Linked DNA regions of Homo sapiens. The protein of the gene in region 1 purifies or fractionates together with the protein of each later gene. This does not show direct contact. Each region holds a gene or a part of one and is shown on either strand. Other genes may lie near its edges.

Evidence for each region. Proteins that work in one complex are often made in the same cells at the same time.
Region 2: the proteins of C5AR2 (region 1) and ASPHD2 purify together in Homo sapiens (affinity purification with mass spectrometry; 2 studies listed by BioGRID and IntAct, with this or other methods). This does not show direct contact.
Region 3: the proteins of C5AR2 (region 1) and COQ8B purify together in Homo sapiens (affinity purification with mass spectrometry; 2 studies listed by BioGRID and IntAct, with this or other methods). This does not show direct contact.

What each region holds. Positions count from the first base shown.
Region 1 is NC_000019.10:47,342,166-47,347,848, reverse strand, and holds the end of C5AR2 (C5a anaphylatoxin chemotactic receptor 2), read right to left. Parts: 3' UTR 520-5,683; downstream 1-519.
Region 2 is NC_000022.11:26,424,927-26,432,287, reverse strand, and holds the start of ASPHD2 (aspartate beta-hydroxylase domain-containing protein 2), read right to left. Parts: upstream 3,029-7,361; 5' UTR 2,802-3,028; intron 1-2,801. UniProt on the Homo sapiens protein: May function as 2-oxoglutarate-dependent dioxygenase.
Region 3 is NC_000019.10:40,699,859-40,706,886, reverse strand, and holds part of COQ8B (atypical kinase COQ8B, mitochondrial), read left to right. Parts: intron 1-1,439; coding exon 1,440-1,562; intron 1,563-1,705; coding exon 1,706-1,791; intron 1,792-3,031; coding exon 3,032-3,172; intron 3,173-3,264; coding exon 3,265-3,346; intron 3,347-4,193; coding exon 4,194-4,287; intron 4,288-6,435; coding exon 6,436-6,577; intron 6,578-6,712; coding exon 6,713-6,820; intron 6,821-7,028.

The sequences.
Region 1 (5,683 bases):
GCTAGAGAGAAAATCCGAAGATCTGTTTTCAGCATATTGTTTGAGTTATGCATTGGACATCAACTGGGGATGTCAAGTGGAACGTTGGATATAATTATCAAGCCTCTGGAAAACAACTTAGAGATAGAGAAGCCAATTCATACATTATTATCAAAAGAAGAAGAATAAATGGACTAAGCATTCTGCTTAAAATTTCCAAACAAGGCCAGGTGCGGTGGCTCACGCCTGTAATCCCAGCACTTTGGGAGGCCGAGGCAGGTGGATTACCTGAGGTCAGGAGTTCGAGACCAGCTAAGCCAACATGATGAAATCCCGTCTCTACTAAAAATATAAAAAATTAGCCAGGCATGATGACGGACACCTGTAATCCCAGCTTCTCGGGAGGCTGAGGCAAGAGAATCGCTTGAACCCAGGAGGTGGAGGTTGCAGTGAGCCAACATCGCATCATTGCACTCTAGCCTGGGCGACAAGGAGAAACTCTGTCTCAAATAAACAAACAAACAAATAAATAAATAAATAAATAATCCAAACAATAATTATAATTTTTAAAAAAGGAAAATTGGAGGAAATGAACAACAAATGGAAATCAACAAGAAAGCCACAGTCTATCAACCATAGGATTGTATAGCAAGCTTGAGACTAGTTCTTAGAGAAATTATTAATAACTTGGTTCTTTGAAAACTTAAGGAAATCAATATTTCTATGGTAAAAAAACAAATAGCAGAAATAGACAAACTTTAGAACAAAAAAGGGAAGTTATAGCAAAACAGATGGCTTTTAATAATCAAAGGTATTTTATGTAACATTGCACAGACTTAAATTTGAAAATTCCCGTGAAATGTATTCCAGTTCAAAAAAGAAGGGCTAATGATCTACAAAATGAAAACATTTCAAAAACCACAAAAGATGTTTTGTAAAAGTTATCAAAGAATGCTCCTAAGTGGCAACTGGTCCCAATAGATTAATGGGAGGATTTTGCAAACTTTAAGCCCCAAAGCGGGGTTTTAGCCCACGAGGGTTCTTGGCTTTGCCCAGAAAAGAATTCAAAGGTGAGCAGGGGCAAGGCAGGGGAAAACAGCTTGCTTTCTTTCCTTCCTTCTTTCTGTCTTTGTGTCTTTCCTTCTTTCTTACTATTTTTTTTTTTTAGACGGAGTCTTGCTCTGTCACCCAGGCTGGAGTGCAGTGGTGTGATCTCGGCTCACTGCAAGCTCCGCCTCCTGGGTTCACGCCATTCTCCTGCCTCAACCTCCCGAGTAGCTGAGTCTACAGGCTCCCGCCAACACGCCTGGCTAATTTTTTGTATTTTTAGTAGAGACAGGGTTTCACTATGTTAGCCAGGATGGTCTTGATCTCCTGACCTCAGGTGATCCACCTGCATTGGCCTCCCAAAGTACTGGGATTACAGACATGAGCCACCACGCCCAGCCTATACCTATTTTTAGCCTATACCTATTTATATAGGTATAAAAATAGCCTATACCTATTTTTAATTACATGTAGATTAAGGGGCAGTTTATGCAGAAATATCTAGGGAAGGGGCAGTAACTTCTGGGTCATGGGGTCATTGCCATGGGAAGGGGCAGTAACTCCTGGGTGTGTTGCCATGGCAATGGCAAACTGACATGGCACACTGGTAGGCGTGTCATAGAAAGTTGCTTCGGGCCAGGCGTGGTGGCCCACACCTGTAATCCCAGCACTTTGGGAGGCCGAGGTGGGCAGATCACCTGAGTCAGGAGTTCAAGACCAGCCTGGCTAATATGGCGAAACCCCATCTCTACTAAAAAATACAAAAATATTAGCTGGGCATGGTGGCATGCGCCTGTAGTCCCAGCTACTCGGGAGGCTGCGGCAGGAGAATCACTTGAATCCGGAAGGTGGAGGTTGCAGTGAGCCGAGATCGTGTCACTGCACTCCAGCCTGGGTAACAGAGCAAGACTCCTTCTCCAAAAAATAAAAATAAATAAAAATAATAAGTTGCTTCAGCCTCCTCCCTGTTTTAGCTGGTCCTCAATTTGGTCCAATATTCGAGCCGAGCCCCATCTCCAGAGTTGAGTCCTGCCTCCTACCTCAAAGGAGCTGTATAAATTGTTCCACAACAAATTTTATTTTACAAGACAGCCTTGGTCTTAATTCACGCATGATAATTCAGAGTAAAATACTAAGTAATAAAATATCAGGCCGGGCGTGGTGGCTCATGTCTGTAATCCCAGCACTTTGGGAGGCCGAGGCGGGTGGATCACCTGAGGTCGGGAGTTCGAGACCAGCCTGGCCAACATGGAGAAACCCCGTCTCTACTAAAAATAAAAAAAAAAAAACATTAGCTGGGTTTGGTGGCACACGCCTGTAGTCCCAGCTACTGGGGAGGCTGAGGCAGGAGAATCGCTTGAACCTGGGAGGCGGAGGCTGTGGTGAGCTGAGATCGTGCCATTGCACTCCAGCCTGGGCAACAAGAGTGAAACTCCGTCTCAAAAAAAAAAAAAAAAAAAAAAAGTGATACCAGTGCTTTCTGACTGAGCTCCTGTCTACCCTGAATCCAATAGATCCTAAGAGTTAGGCAGGTATATCGTCACCCCTGTCCAGCCTGAAGAAGTCACAGAAGTTGTATCTTCCTCCCTCTACAACCCTTAGGATTAAAGGTTCTCTTATAAAAGGGAGCGGGGAAATGTCAGAGGCATGTGAACCAGAGTGACTCCATCTTGAACAGGAGCTGGGTGAAATAAGGCTGAGACCTATGGGCTGCATTCCCAGGAGGTTAGGTATTCTAAGTCAAGGATAAGGCCGGGAACGGTGGCTCATGCCTGTATTCCCAGCACTTTGGGAGGCCAAGGTGGGTGGATCACCTGAGGTCAGGAGTTCGAGACCAGCCTGGCCAACATGGTGAAACCCTGTCTCTACTAAAAATACAAAAATTAGCCAAGTGTGGTGGCAGCGCCTGTAATCCCAGCTACTCGGGAGGCTGAGGCATAAGAATCGCTTGAACCCGGGAGGTGGAGGTTGCGGTCAGCCGAGATCGTGCCACTACAATCCAGCCTGGGTGACAGAGCAAGACTTCATCTCAAAAAAATAAAATTAAATTAAATTAAAAAAAATTAGTCCAGTTGTTACCCTTGGGGAATTTACAGTTTAGCTGGGACCTTGTGTTCCAGAGACTCAGAGAAAGGAAGAGCCCATTCTTTCTGGAAGGAGCATAAATCAGGGAGGGCTTCCTGGAGGAAGTGACATTTGAGGGACGCCTTGAAGGAAATTATTGATGATGAAGAGCAAGAGCATTGGAGTCAAAACTGGGATCAAATTCCAGCTGTCTGGTGTTCTTGCTGTGTGATCTTGGGTAAATGACCTCCCCTCCCAGGACCTCAGCTTATAAAATGAAGCATGCCACCCTATCTCCCTGGGCTGTTGTGAGAATGACCTTAAAGGAGAAACTATATGTGAAGTGCTGTTCTGGAGTAATGACCGCAGACACAGGTATCACTACTATGTTATTTATTTATTTATTTATTTAGCGGCAGGGTCCCGCTCCGTCACCTAGGCTAGAGTGCAGTGATGAGATCACGGCTCACTGCAGCCTCAACCTCCCAGGCTGAAGCAATCCTCCCACTTCAGTCTCCCTAGTAGCTGGCACTACAGGCATGTGCCACCAAACCAGGCTAATTTTCTTTTTTTTATTTTTGTAGAGATGGGGTCTTGCTCTGTTGCCCAGGCAGGTCTCCAGCTTCTGGGCTCAAGGGATCCTCCCGACTGGGCCTCCGAAAGTGCTGGGATCACAGGCGTGAGCCACCATGCCTGGCCTACCATGTAATTTAAAAGATCTGAGCAGGTAGAGTTCAAAAGTAAATTCTAGAACAGCATTTTGTAACAGAAATCTCTGTTATGATGGCAATGTTCTATAGCTGTGCTGTCGAATATGGCAGTCACCAGCCATATGTGGCTACTGAGCACTTGAACTATGGCCAGTGTGCCCGAGGAACTAAATTTGAAATGAAAATTTATTCTTTCTTTCTTTTTTTTTTTGAGATGGAGTCTCATTCTGACATCCAGGCTGGAGTGCAGCGGTGTGATCTAAGCTCACTGCAAACTCCACTTCCCGGGCTCAAGCAATCTACCTGCTTTAAGGAGGATTGAAGCAGAAGGATTCAAGCAACTCCCTCCTCAGTAGCTGGAACTACAGGCACGCCCCACCACGTCTGGCTAATTTTTGTATTTTTTGTAGAGATGGGGTCTTGCTATGTCGCCCAGGCTGGTCTCAAACTCCTGGGCTCATGCAATCCTCCCACCTCGGCCTCCCAAAGTGCTGAGATTATAGGCAGGAGCCACCAGGCCTGGCCAATTGATTCGAATTTGAATAGCCACAGATGGCTCTTGATTGTTGAACTGCACAACATAGATCAGAAGGACATTCCAGCCAGTGGCACAGCTTCAGGAAAGATGCAGAAGCGTGAATATAGCCCGAAGGGTGTGTATTAGCTTCCCACGGCTGCTATAACAAATCACCCCAAACATAGTGACTTAAAACAATACAAATGTATTTTCTTAAAGGTCTGCGGATCAGAGGTCTAAAAGTGTCAGGAGGTCTGTGTTCCTTCTGGGAGCTTCAGAGAGAATCTGTTTCCTTGTCTGTTTCAGCTTCTGGAAGCTGCCTGCATTTCTTGGCACCTCCTCACGTCACTATGACATCTGCTTCCGTTGTCACCTCCTGTGACTGACCCTGACCCTCCTGCCTCCCTCTTAAAAGGACCCTCGTGACTCCATTGAGCCCACCCAGACAATCCAGGATAACCACCCCTTCTCAAGATCCTTTACTTAATCTCACCTGCAAAGTCCCTTTTGCCATGGAAGGTCACCTCTTCACAGGTTCAGGGGATTAAGATGTGGACATCACCGGGGGTCATGATTCTGATTGCTACAGGGTCTGAGAAGCTAGAGAGTAAGTGTGTCCAGTGGTGGAGAGAAGCCTTGAATGCCGAGCTAAGGAGCCTGGACTTGGCCTTTCCTTCAAAATAGATGCATGACCTGTCAGCCTCTCACCACCTCAGCTCTGTTACCCTGATCCAAATCGCTATCACCTCCTGCTTGGACCATTACAGTAGCCTCCTCTCTGGGATCTTCACTGCCCCTACACCATACTCTCACCTCCACCAGCAACCAGAGGGATCCTATTAAAATCTTTTGGCCGGGTGCGGTGGCTCACGCCTGTAATCCCAGCACTTTGGGAGGCTGAGGCGGGTGGATCACCAGGTCAGGAGATCAAGACCATCCTGGCTAACAAGGTGAAACCCCTTCTCTACTAAAAATACAAAAATTAGCTGGGCATGGTGGCGGGCGCCTGTAGTCCCAGCTACTCAGGAGGCTGAGGCAGGAGAATGGCGTGAACTCAGGAGGCGGAGCTTGCAGTGAGCCGAGATTGTGCCACTGCACTCCAGCCTGGGCGACAGAGCGAGACTCCATCTCAAAAAAATAAATAAATAAATAGAATCTTTTATTTATTTATTTTTTGAGACGGAGTCTCGCTCTGTCGCCCAGGCTGGAGTGCAGGGGCTCAATCTTGGCTCACTGTCACCTCTGCCTCCCGGGTTCAAAACGATTCTTCTGCCTCAGCCTCCCAAGTAGCTGGGACTACAGGCATGCGCCACCATGCCCGGCTAATTTTTGTATTTTTAGTAGAGACAGGGTTTCACCATATTGG
Region 2 (7,361 bases), on another chromosome or scaffold:
AGCAGAGAGAAGCCAGATTAGAGATGGGCCCAGTTGAGGATTCATCCCAACCTTGGGCAGATCGCTTTTCCTAAGCCTGTTTCTTTTCTTTTGAGACGGAGTTTCACTCTTATCGCCCAGGCTGGGGTGCAATGGTGCAATCTTGGCTCACCACAACCTCCACCTTCCAGGTTCAAGTGATTCTCCTATCTCAGCCTCCTGAGTAGCTGGGATTACAGGCATGCGCCATCACACCCAGCTAATTTTGTATTTTTAGTAGAGATGGGGTTTTTCCATGTTGGTCAGGCTGGTCTTGAAATCCCAATCTCAGGTGATCCGTCCACCTCAGCCTCCCAAAGTGTTGGGATTACAGGCGTGAGCCACTGCGCCTGGCTGCCTCAGTTTCTTTATCCATGAAATGGGGTTCGTGTTCATCTCACTGGATGAAGATGAATGATGGCGGATGGACAGCACTTACGACCACGTCATAATGAGCACCCAATATATGCAGGCGACGGCTAGGATGGGTGGCATCCCATAATGAGTAGCCAGCGTTCCAAAGGTGGGGCACGAGAGAAAGGTATAGCAAGACTCGGAATTCCAACAGTTAAAGGTAAATCCTGGACACTCTTGTTGCCTCATGTATTGAGTGGCTTTTTTGTCCCCAGACTTGCTAAGCTAAAAATGAAAGGGAAACCTTAGGTGCTCATTAACTGCCTACTTGCTTTTTCCCAGTTTCGGTTGAATAATCACTTGACTATAATGTTTAGTAAGTCAAAAACACACATGCTGAATATTCATGGAAATTTTTTATGTTTCTAGGAAAAATACAAGAGTGGGGAGGTTAGAAGCTAAGTTGTTTTTTGTTTTCTTTTGTTTTTTTTTTTTTTTCTTTCCCACACATTCTCAATTTCTTCTCAGATTCAGGAGAAGAGGAAAAGGCTATGACTCACTGGAGGTTAAGAAACCCCTTCAGCCCCCTGTTTCTCTCCTTGTTAGACCATAAACTGGCAGCTGTTACTCTTTAGGAAAAGGAAAGAAAATCCAGATGAAAGATGTTTTGTTTGCAAGCCATCTCCCAAACAGAACCTCAGAGTTCCTGAAATTCAGTGTGAAACAATCATCTATGTGACACCAAGCACTTTTACTAAAAGGATTTCCCCCATCACTGAGCTAAACCCCTACTGGAACTTTTCAACTGAGTCTGTCAGGAGGAAAGGTTTTTTTCTTAAATGTTCTAAGAGTGAGACGGTGATAATTTAACAAGCACCTGTAAAGTGTTAGTTCCCATCAGCCCTGCTGATCACTTAAGTCAAGCAAAATGCAGACACAGAAAACAGGGTGGATGATGGAGAAACCTCTCCACTGGACACCCCAGCCCTGTACTCTTCTCAGGAAAGCCTCCTTCTGTACTAAGCCAGCCATGAGCCCTCCCTAAGGCTGAGCTGTAAGCAAAAGAATGTAAAAGATTCTGAACCCCAGCTTCAGACCCTCCTCCCGAGATCATAAATAGCACTGAGAGCTCAAGTTAGGACTTTTCATACCTGTCAGTCACTTTTAGCCAAAATATGCCAACAGGCCCCTGCACCCGGAGGTGGATTTACAAGCTCAAAGCTGAACTATGACAATAAAAGAAACACATTTGCAGAGTGACTGGCAGTTTATTAAGCACTGCTTCAAACATTTGATCCTCACAGCTACCTAGTGACAACTCCCCATCTACCCAGTGGGGAGAGGAGAGACTCTCTCCCCCGACAGCTCCTTGCCCAGTGACCACAGTAGCTTCCAGCTTCCTTCGCACATCTGTTCATTGTCATCTGTGTTATTTCTGTCCTCATCAGGGATGGGGACATCTCATTGCAGCTCTGCACTTTAATAATAAGCAACCCCAGATCTTCCAGCTCAGTTGGCTCTGGGGAATTGAGTCCAAATCCATGGCCAGTTGGAGAGCAAGTCCAATCCAAGACAACTTCTCACACCATGAACACCTGGGAGAGCCGGTGTCAGGCCTGACCTGGTCAGCCTAGTTCAGATGTCCATTCCCAGAGGCTGCCTAATGCCAAAGAGTGTCTGCTCACCCTCAGGATGAGGCCAAGTCACCCTGGAAGCCCCCCAGTGAGCAGCACTGGGCAAGGTGTGTGATGCCTGTCACCCTCTCCACTCAGGAGCCAGAGAGATGCCGTGGGGCCAGCCCTTCCCGGTGCAGACCTGGGGACCTTCCCTCTCTTGGCCAGCTTCTCAGCACCCACCTGCCCTGGAGAGTGGGAAAGAGGGGAGGGCTGAAGATGGGTTAGCACAGATGGTGACCACCAGGAGGTCAGGGGAGGAGGGGGATGGGACGATGGAAAGGTGAGTGTTGCCCGGAAAAGTGGACGATCAGCTCAAGATTGTGGAAGGAGGTTTATGGCGCCTCATAATTCGTGGGACAGGGGAGGAGGGTCACCACGTGAAATATGGGAAGTGGGTGATGCTGAGGGCTGGGGGAGGGGACAGGAGGTGAGGAAAGAGGGGTCACAGGGGAGAAGGGAGATGGAGGAAGGGACCACGATGGGGCAGGGAAGAGGAGTAGGAGGAGGTCTAGGGAGGGTGATGCCCGGCTCCGAGGCGGCGGCGCTTAGCACGTACGAGCACTGGCCTCGGCCGGGCCGGGATGCGGGCGCCCGGGTCCCGGAGCATCCTCGGCGGGGGCGGCGGCGGCGGCGGCGCCGGTAAGGGAGGGCCGTGGGCCTGCAGCTGCCGGGCTCCCGCCTCCAACCCCTGTCCTGGGGTCGGCCCAGCCGCGCCGCCCTCCCGCCCCGGCAGCCCCCGGAGACGAAGCTTACCTGCGCCCGGGCGCGCGGACGGCTGCCGGGACCCAGGAGACGCCGCCGCCCGAGGGCGCGGACCCGCGGACGGCCCCTGCCCGGCGCCGCGGAGCCGCCGCCTGGCTGCTGCCCAGCCCACGCCGCGGGAGCCCGAGCCGGAGCCCGAGCCCGAGCCTAAGCCGCGCCGGTGCCCCTGCCGGTGCCGACGCCGCGCTGCGCTCCGCGGGGCCGCGAAGACCACAACTCCCACAATGCCGCGCGCGCTGGGCCGCCGGGGGAGGGGGTACGGGGGGGCGGGGCCTGCGGGGCGGGGCCGGGGACCCCCCTGCACCCGGCACCTGCGCTCGCAGTGCGGGAGGCGACCCGAGGCCGCGCCCGCCGCCGCTCCGGAGGGTCCTGGCAGTGCGCCCCGAGACGCAGCGCCCGCCCAGCCCGAGGTTGCGCGCAGGCGGCGACGGGCGTGCAGTCATTCATTAAGAAAGGCTCGCGTCGCTTCCTTCGCTCTTTCGTTTTTCGCTCTGTGTCTTTCTCAGTTCTCCCTCCCTCTGTCTCTCTGTTCCTCTCTGAGTCGCCCTCGTCTCCATTTCCTCCTTTTCATTCTCTTTCACTTCCCCCCCACCTCACTTCCTCTCGCCCTAACGCCTTCTTTCCTTTATTGATGGACTCAACACGGACTTCTGAGGCCCTCAGGCACTTGGAATGGAACCGCAAATCAAACCAGATTCTTAGTCTCATGGAAAACTCATTCGCTCAGTACAGTAATGATGGGCCAGCCTGGGTCCCCGTCCCTGCCAGCTGCGCTGAGCGTGCGCGGTGAGCGCTCAGGCCCGCCCTGCCCTCAGTGAGCCACCGTCTAGCGGGAGGGGACCCTCACCCCCGGGTAGGGTTTAGGAGGGGAAGTACAGGCAGGACGGTTGTCTGACCAGGGGACTGATGAGCTGCGAATGGAGGCCCCAAGGAGGCTGCTTGGAGGAGGTGACGTTTGAGCTAAGACCTGGGGGAGACTAACAGTGGCTACGGGATGTGTTAGGGGCGCCAGGGAAACTGCATGGGTGGGTTCTGGGAGCATAGAGTAGGATGGCCCGCCCACAATCCATCTGTCTCTGTCCCAGACCCACCTCTCTTGTGTCCCAGAATTTATCTCTAACATGGCCCAGAAGCCACCTCATGTCTGTCCCAGAATCCATTTCTCATCCCTATTCCAGAAGCCACCTTCACCCTGTTCCAGAACGTACCTCCTTCCTGTTCCAGAACCCACCTCCCTCCCTGTCCCAGGACCCACCTCCACCCTGTGCCAGAACTCACCTCCTTCCTGTTACAGAACCCACCTCCTCCCTCTTCCAGAACCCACCTCCTCCCTCTTCCAGAGCCCACCTCCTCCCTCTTCCAGAACCTACCTTCTTTCTGTCCCAGGACCCACTTCCACCCTGTCCCAGGACCCACCTCCTCCCTGTCCCAGGACCCACCTCCACCCTGTCCCAGAGCCCACCTCCTCCCTATTCCAGAAGCCACCTTCACCCTGTTCCAGAACATACCTCCTTCCTGTTCCAGAACCCACCTACTCCCTGTCCCAGGACCCACCTTCACCCTGTGCCAGAACCTACCTCCTTCCTGCTACAGAACCCACCTCCTCTCTCTTCTAGAACCCACCTCCTCCCTCTTCCAGAACCCACCTCCTCCCTCTTCCAGAACGCACCTCCTCCCTCTTCCAGAACGCACTTCCTCCCTGTCCCAGGACCCACCTCCTCCCTGTCCCAGGACCCACCTCCACCCTGTGCCAGAACCCACCTCCTCCCTGTTCCAGGACCCACCCCCTCTCTGTTCCAGAACTCACCTCCACCCTGTTCCAGAACTCACCTCCTCCCTGTCCCAGGACCCACCTCCTCCCTGTCCCAGGACCCACCTCCACCCTGTGCCAGAACCCACCTCCTCCCTGTTCCAGGACCCACCCCCTCTCTGTTCCAGAACTCACCTCCACCCTGTTCCAGAACTCACCTCCTCCCTGTCCCAGGACCCACCTCCTCCCTGTCCCAGGACCCACCTCCACCCTGTGCCAGAACCCACCTCCTCCCTGTTCCAGGACCCACCCCCTCTCTGTTCCAGAACTCACTTCCACCCTGTTCCAGAACTCACCTCCTCCCTGTTCCAAGACCCACCTCCACCCTGTCCCAGTACCCACCTCCTCCCTGTTCCAGAAGCCACCTTCACCCTGTTCCAGAATGTACCTCCTCCCTGTCCCAGAGCCCACCTCCACCATGTCCCAGAACCCACCTCTCATCTCTGTCCCAAAATCCACCTGGTCCCTGACCTAAGAATCTGCCTCTACTGTGATAGCCTAAAATCCACCTCCTCCCTGTTCCAGAACCCAGTTTGTCATGTCCCAGAACCCACTTCTTCCATGTCCCAGAGTACACCTCTCCCATGTCCCAGAATACACCTCTTCCATGTCTTAGACTCTTCTTCATCTCTGTCATTTCTCTCCTTTTCTCAACTCCAAAAGAGGAAGAATGTTTTTTCTCTTTTATTCTACTAAAATAAACCAAAACACTTGCATTGGGAAACCATAATATGCACAGATTTGCTCAAAGTGTGGATAATCAACACAGGCATCAGATTTAGAAACATTAAATGGGATGTCTGTCTTCACTGTCAGCCTAAGAGTGGTTGAGCCTGGGTGGGGTGGAGAAAATGGAGTGGGGGGTATTTGACTCATCTCACATTCAGAAAGTTGCTCAAACTTAGAATTCTCCAAAGGCAGTCATACATTCTATCACAGCATTATCCTGGCAGGTTTGAAAAAAAAAAGATATTTTTATATTGTAAATATGTGTTCCATTCCTGCACCATCTTATCTGTACTGTATTATGAATTAATATTGTCTATCAATCCTATAAGTGTCCTTGACCAGTGCAATTATATGATATCTGTAGACCACTGCTCTGCATTTGTTAGTATTTATTTGTTCAATGGCAATATTACTATACACGCAATTTTGTTAGCCCTGCTTACCATTTCTTCATCTTTTTAATTAGCTGGGAGTCTCAATAAATGGAAATGACCTGGGCCTCTGTCAACCCCTTGGAGACCCTACTAGGTGAATTCTGCAGAAAAGGATATCCATGCCTTTCAGAGGGGGATTTTGGGTGAGAGCTCCAGATAAATTGTTACTGTGCTCATGGAGAGGCGGAGAGGAGGACCAAGGGCATCTGAATTGCCTGCCTTCAGCTTGGCTGCCACCTGCATCCTCCTGCTCTCGCTGCCTTCTTTAGCGCAGTCATCCTACCCACTCCGAGACTACACAACCTATCATTACACCGTCTCATACACTCACGGGGTCCACTCAACTCCCTCCTCCTACAGATGGAAGCCCAGAGAGAAAACATGCCTTGCTCAATCAAGGTTGCAGCAAGTCAGTGGAAAATGTGCTTGCGGCCAGCCGTGGTGGCTCACATCTGTAATCCCAGCACTTTGGGAGGCCGAGGCCAGTGGATCACCTGAAGTCAGAAGTCCTAGACCATCCTGATCAACATGTTGAAACCCTGTCTCTACTAAAAGTACAAAAAGTTTTGTATTAATTTTTGTATTAATTAACTACAGGTGTGGTGGTGCACGCCTGTAGTCCCAGCTACTCTGGAGGCTGAGGCAGGAGAATTGCTTGAACCCAGGAGGCAGAGGTTGCAGTGAGCTGAGATTGCACTACTGCATTCCAGCCTGGGTAACAGAGCAAAACTCTCTGAAAGAAGAAAGAAAGAAAGAGAGAGGGAGGGAGGGAGAGAGGGAAGGAGGAAAGGAAGGAAGGAAAGAAAGAAGGGAGGGAGGGAGGGAGATGTGCTTGCTTGGTGCATTAAAGAAACTGGTATGATCACTTTGGAGAGCAGTTTGGTAGTATTCCTTAAAACAACAACAAATATGTATACACTGAAACCAACAATTTCGCTATGCTATATCTAACCTAGAGGGATTCTGGGATAGATGGAAGACTAGTTGTTTTTTCATATTACGTAATACTGTGAAGCTACTAAAAGCAGGAGCTAGATGTATATATAGCAACGTGGATAAAGCTCCTAGAAAAATAATAGGGTGAAAATTAAAAAAAAAGCAGAATTATGATTGTAGTATGATTTTATCTACATAACACGCACCTGTACACATGTGGGTATACACATGTATTTATATAAAAGCAGGGAAAGCACTAGAAGAACACACTAGTATGTTCTCCTATATAAAATGCAAAATAATTACGTTTGTAAATGCAGATAATATCCCTCAGAGGAAGCACACCAAATTCCTAAGAGTTGTAACTTCAGGGGGGACCAAGAAGGAACAAGGAATTGGGAGCAGTAGGCAAGGGAAACTCCAGCATTTTTTGTGATGTTTTAATTTAATATTTTCAAAGGTGTTTAAATACTCCGGAACAACATGCAGAAAGTTACTGGGACCGCGTCACTCTCCTATCCCTCAACCAGTTGGTTTTCTTTAGTGAAGACAGCCATTATAACAAATTTCTTATTCATCTTTTCAGGAATACGCTTTGCATTTGCAAATATTTGGAAATAGCTTAACTTTTAACTTTTAAAA
Region 3 (7,028 bases), 6.6 Mb from region 1:
GTGAATTATAACAGTATGTGAATTATTTCTCAATAAAACTGTTAGAATGAGCCTCCAAAGAGCTTATTTATGTGGATTATAGTTATCAATGTCTACCATATTAGAAATTAAAACTGAGAAATTTTTAGGCCAGGTGCGGTGGCTTACGCCTGTAATCCCAACACTTTGGGAAGCTGGGGCGGGAGGATCCCTTGAGGTCAGGAATTTGAGACCAGTCTGAGTGACATAGCGAGGCCCCATTTTTACAGAAAGTAAAAATATTAGCCAAGCATGGTGGTGCATACCTGTAGTCCCAGCTACTCAGGAGGTTAAGGCAGGAGGATCACTTGGGCCCAGGAGGTTGCAGTGAGCCATGATTGTGCCGCTGCACTCCAGCCTGGGTGATAGAGTGAGACACTGTCTCAAAAACACAACAAAAATACAGAGATATTTTTAAAACACAAGAGTACACACGTACACATTCCATCAGCTGTCAGTCTGATGGTGTCCTCACATGTCCTGGAGCCTCTGGAGAACTCCAGTGAATGTTCTTAGACGCATGAGAGCAGAAAGGGGAAAATAACATCTTAATGTTACGATAAAAATAGTTTGATCTCTCAGACCCCTCTGAATGGTCTCAGGGACCCTCAGGGGTCCCTGGCCCACATTTCGAGAATCGTTGCCCTTCTCATGTCCCCACCTGGTCACTCCCCTCACCAAGGGTGACCTCTGTCTTGGCTCCTGGACCCTGGATTTGTTTGGCCTTGTTTTGCTCTTTATATCAGTGTAACTGGGTGATGATTTCATGCACCCGGCTGCTTTCACTCAGCATTACATTTTTGAGACCCACCTGGGCTGTTGTGTGTAGTGATAGCTCATCTATTCAATACTGTAGTAGTTACTCTTTGACTCTCCTGCAATTTGTTTTAACTTATGTTTATTTTTCTTTCTTTCTTTTCTTTTTTTTTTTTTTTTCCCGAGACAGGGTATTGCTTGGTTGCCCAGGCTGGAGTGCAATGGTGCGATCACAGTTCATTGCAGCCTCAACCTCCAGGGCTCAAGCAATCCTCCTGCCTCAGCCTCCTGAGTAGCTGGGACTACAGGCACATGCCACCATACACCCAGCTAATTAGAGACAGGGTCTTGCTTTGTTATCCAGGCTGGTCTGGAACTCCTTGACTCAAGCCATCCTCCTGCATTGACCTCCCAGTGTTGGGATTATAGGCGCGAGCCAACAAGCCTGGCCTCCGTATTTCGTTTTAGCCATTCCTGTTGGTGTGCAGATGATATATATTTTTTTTAATAGAGAAAGGATGTCACTGTTGCCCAGACTGGTCTCAGACTCCTGTGTTCATCCCGCCTGGGTCTCCCAAAGTGCTGGGATTACAGGCGTGGGCCGCCGGGCCTGGCCGCAGTGATGATATTTGTGGTTATAATTCTAATGGTTGTTCTCTCCCCAGAGGGTGGTTCTGGGCTGGACTCCAGCCCCTTCCTGTCGGAGGCCAATGCCGAGCGGATTGTGCAGACCTTATGTACAGTTCGAGGGGCCGCCCTCAAGGTTGGCCAGATGCTCAGCATCCAGGGTACAGCATGACCCTCGACTCCTGACCCCTGACCTCCCTTCTACCCCAGCCCTACCCACCAACAGGCCCCAACTTCAGATACTCACACGGGGTCCCTCCTCACCTCTTCGCTTACTTCCCCCCTGGTTCCACTGTCTCCCAAGACAACAGCTTCATCAGCCCTCAGCTGCAGCACATCTTTGAGCGGGTCCGCCAGAGCGCCGACTTCATGCCCCGCTGGCAGATGCTGGTGAGTGCCCAGTGGGGGAGGGCGGTGAGGGAGGCAGGCTCCATCTCCTCTGACCTGCCTGACCTTCCTGGCTTCACTGCCCCACTCCCTGCCTCTGAGCCTCACTTTCCCCATCTGTAAAATGGGAATCACCAGAGTACACACCTCCTAGCATTGCTGTGGTGATTAAAACAGGGAACAGCAGCCTGACCTCTCTGTGCTTCAGTTCCCTTCCCTGGGAAATGGCGATAGTGACAGCCACACCCACATCATAGGGTCACATAAATCAGTTTACACTGAGCACTGAGAACGGCCCCTGATTCACTGTGAGCAACATGCAGGTGTTAGCTGTGATTATTACTGTTTTTTTAATTAAAGGAGATCGTGTCTGTAATAGGTTGGCACGGCGCCTGGCACCAAGTAAGTGCCCAGGACATGAGCTGTTCTAATAACTGGGTAAGGCATGGAATCCAGGATTCCGCCACCCACCTGCTCTCCCATCCCTGTTCTGCTTATTCGCCATGCGGCCCCAGGCAGGTACTGCCTCTCTCTGGGCCACTCTGAATAGGACCTGGCCCACAGGAAGCCCATTGTAAATTTTAGCTCTTCTTGATCACAGTAACTGTGAGTTAATAATAACATATAAGAGCATAATAAAGGATGGTTGGCCACGTGTAATGGCTCATGCCTGTAATCCCAGCACTTTGGGAGGCTGCGGTGGGAGGATCATTTGAGCTCAGGACTTCCAGACCACCCTGGGCAACATAGTGAGACCTTGTCTCTACTAAACATAATAACAGTAATAATTAGCTGGGCACAGTGGCACATATCTGTAGTCCCAGCTATTCAGGAGGCAGGAGGATGGCTTGAGCTCGGGAGGTTGATGCTGCAGTGAGCCGTGAGAGTGCCACTACACTCCAGCCTGGGCTACAGAACAAGACCCTGTCTCAAAAAAAAAAAAAAAAAAAGGATTGTTATGAGTCTTAACTATAAATAATAGCAATCCCCACAACAGCCCAGGGAGTCCAGGTTCAGGGGACACAGGCTAGGCTGAGCCTCACAGTCTGCCAGTGCCTGGCTAGTCACTTGCACAAGGGAGCTCTCTCTGAGCCTCAGTTTCCTCATCTGCAAAGGGGGTGGCAGCCAAGAGCTTAGCCCAGGGCCCTGCATGTGGTGAGTGCTGGGGTTATCAACACGTAAAGCACTCAGCCTGGGGAATGAACTCTGCCACAATGATGATGGCTGTGACCACTCCCCGCAGAGAGTTCTTGAAGAGGAGCTCGGCAGGGACTGGCAGGCCAAGGTGGCCTCCTTGGAGGAGGTGCCCTTTGCCGCTGCCTCAATTGGGCAGGTGCACCAGGGCCTGCTGAGGGACGGGACGGAGGTGGCCGTGAAGATCCAGGTGAGAGGGGAGGCTGGGCAGGGTAGGGGCGGGCACCCTGCTAGCCCAGAGAAGTGACTCCCACCTTCTCTCCCTCCCTTCTCCCTTTACAGTACCCCGGCATAGCCCAGAGCATTCAGAGCGATGTCCAGAACCTGCTGGCGGTACTCAAGATGAGCGCGGCCCTGCCCGCGGGTGAGGCGCCCACCCACTCCTCTGCTGACCTCCCAAAGGGGCTATGCCCAGAGAGAGAAAGCAGGAGGGGGAGCCCAGAGGAGAGCACGGGCAGGGTGTGCTGGCGTTGTGAGCGGGAGTGTCAGAGACAGAAAGGACACCAAGGCGGGGAGAGCCCAGGGAGCATGAGCAGGTGTGGGAAAAGCCTTATGGATTTTAACAGAGCCTTAGAGAGACGGGAGCCCAGGGCCAAGATACAGCAGCAGACTCTCAGAGGGTGTGCATGCAGGGAGCGGGATTGTAGGTGCGGCAGAGCAGAAAAGGACAGTCCTGGGGATGGCACGTGAGGAGGCGCCTAGAGAAAGGAGGGTGGGTTGTGTTTGTGTAAGAGACGGAGAGGGAGAGGGAAAGCCAGGCCCAGAAGTGAGATTCAGATGCAGTGAGCAACGTGAGAGTCAGTATGAAAAGGAGACAGAATAGAGGCAGGCGTGACTCTGAAAGAGCTGCCAGGGACTGGGGTGCAGGCATGTGCAAGAGACAGAGCCCAGAAAAGGCTTCGGAAGACCCCGGGGAACCCTGTGGTGCTATGAAGGACGAGGGAAATGTGTAGACAGATGATACGATGCAGGTCAGAGGCCTGGAGCAGGAGCTGCAAGGGGCAGCGGGGGAGACAGGAGAGGGACAGATGCAGGTCAGAGGCAGGAGCAGGAGCTGCGTGGGAGACAGGAGAGGGACAGATGTGGGTCACAGGCCTAGAGTAGGAGCTGTGAGGGACAGCGCGGGAGACAGGAGAGAGAGGGTTGGCAGGAGAAGGCATCCACCAGTGGGCGCTCGGGGCCCTTCCCTGGCTGACACACCTCCCCCACAGGCCTGTTTGCCGAGCAGAGCCTGCAGGCCTTGCAGCAGGAGCTGGCTTGGGAGTGTGACTACCGTCGTGAGGCGGCTTGTGCCCAGAATTTCAGGTGAGCTGAGTGCCCTGAGCTTCCCTCCTTCCCTCCCTCCCAGGCTGGGTGGGAAGTAGCTGCCCCCTCAGCTTCTGGCAGCTGGAGCTGTGGGGTAGGGCAAACTCTCTCTTTCTTTCAATCATTGTTCATCCATCCTTCCACTCATCCATCACTTCGCTTACCCCCTTTGTCCTCTGTGAGCTTGGGCAGGTCACTTCCCAAGCGGCAGTCTTCTCCTGTGTCAGATGGGCCGCATATCCACTGTGGTCCGACACAGGCACTTAATTAATTACACAATGACACACTCTTACCTCTGCTGGACTGACGGAGAGCAAGGAGCCCACAGCACTGGGAGGTAGAGAGAGTGGGCTCCACAGCATCCCTTCTGCACTGCAGGTTGTGGGAGAAGGTGGTAGAAGCATTTTGAGAACAGGTTGGCATCATCACATAAGCCCTTATATTCAAGAACTCTGCAAGCCAACGATTGCCCTCCCTGCTGAACACTCTAGGGACCCTTTTGCCAGTATCCATCATCAGACTGTTCTAGAACGCTTGTCTGCAACAGCCCCAAACTGGAAACAACCCATATCCATCAAGTTTATCCAGCAGGGTGGACAAATAAGCAACGGTATATTCATCTGTGGAATATTACGTAGCAGTGAAAATGCATGAACTATGGCTACGTGGAACAATGTGGTTATATCTTGGAAGCATCCTGATGTGTAGCAATTAATGGCACCTCAGTGGGGTCCTCCACAGTGTGGCTCACACATTTATTGACAGCCTAAAACGTGCCAAGCTCTGTAGACAGAGAGTGAAAGCTCAGTAGAAGGCAGTGGTTAGAGGCACACACCCTAGACTCAGATGCGGGATGAAATCCTGGGTCAGCCCTTAACAGGTTACGTGGCCTGCATCCATACAATCTGTACAGTGGCCTCCAGAGAGCATCCCCTCACTGTGGAGTGAGGATGAAAGGGGAGTGTGCCGATTAAATGCCCCACATGGCTCCGGTTCATGAGGAGCAGTTCAAACATCAGAGATTTTTATCAACAAGGACAAAAATACAAACCCCAAAGGAGGAGCTCAAGGAAGAGAGTGTGAAGTGGGGTGATGGGCCAGAGACCCCCCCGTCCCCCACAGGATTCCCGGGTGCCCTTAGGATAAAACCCCACACCACCCTCCTGTTCTCCCTCACTCTCCTCCAGCCATCCCACGGATCCTCAACCAGAGACCTTGCTCATATTCTCTGCCTCCCAAATCTTACATAGACATACTTCTTTTATTTTTTTGAGACAGGGTCTCGCTCTGTTTTCCAGGCTGGAATACAGTGGTGAGATCACAGCTCACTCCAGCCTCGACCTCCCAGGCTCAAGTGATTTTCCCACCTCAGCCTCCTGAGTAGCTGGGAACATAGGCGCAGGCCACCACGCCCAGCTAATTTTTGTAGTTTTTCATAAAGACGAGGTTTCACCATGTTGCCCAGGCTGGTCTTGAACTCCTGGGCTCAAGCGATTCTCCCACCTCGGTGTCTCAAACTGCTGGGATTACAGGTGTAAGCCACTGCACCCAGCCAACACACTTACCTCAATCTATAATCCGTCTGTTTGTGAGAGTGTGGTCTCGGGGTTGGGGGCCAGGTCCAGGGACTGGTTCATTCACTGCTCTGTCCCCAGCATCATTTAGCACAAGGATGGACACAGAAGATTCTTTCCCGCTATTTACCTGTGTTCAGAGTAGTGATTGCAAGGACTGACCCATGGGTATCACTATAGACTTCACAGATTTTGATACCAGTGACTACTTTTGGGATGAATGAATTAATAAATTAATGAAAAAGTAATGCAAAGGCTGAAATACACCTGAACTCATCCTTCTGGGGCAACCAGAAGTCATAGAAGGGTTTCGGGTAGGGAAGTGGTGACTGGGTTTCCAGCAGCACCCAGTTGAGAGGCAGGTGCAGAGTAGGCACCTTGGAGATACTTGTTAAATCTCAGTCCAGCCAGGTGTTGGTCATCACCCAGGGCAGACAGCAGCAAGAGATGGGCAGGAGGGAGGGCATGGCGCAGACTGTTCATGGAGGACTTCTGAGAGCACAAGGAGGAGGTCTCAAGCTGGGTCACAAGCCTGAAGCACGAAGTCCCCTTCCTCCCTTTCCTTCTGCCCCAGGCAGCTGCTGGCAAATGACCCCTTCTTCCGGGTCCCAGCCGTGGTTAAGGAGCTGTGCACGACACGGGTGCTGGGCATGGAGCTGGCTGGAGGGGTCCCCCTGGACCAGTGCCAGGGCCTAAGCCAGGACCTGCGGAACCAGGTATGCTGTCTGGTGGCACAGTGGGAAGGGCATGGCCCCAGGGCGGGTGGGCCAGGCTCATGGTCTCTCTCCAGGCCAGCAGTGGCACCACAAGGGAGATCACACTGAGATGCCTGTTAATTCTCCCCACCCCAGATTTGCTTCCAGCTCCTGACGCTGTGTCTGCGGGAGCTGTTTGAGTTCCGATTCATGCAGACTGACCCCAACTGGGCCAACTTCCTGTATGATGCCTCCAGCCACCAGGTTGGTTCCTAGTGATGTGTGTCTGGGTACATTTGCTGTTGTAACAAATATTCCTTGATATTTCGGTAGCTCAACAAAATAGCAGTTGATTACCCCCACAATAGGCAGGGGTGGCCCTTTTCCAAGTGGGATTCAGGGACCCAGCTCCTTCCCTTTTGTGGTTTTGCCATCCCTGGGGCCTTGCAACGCTCTGCTTCCCAAGGAAAGG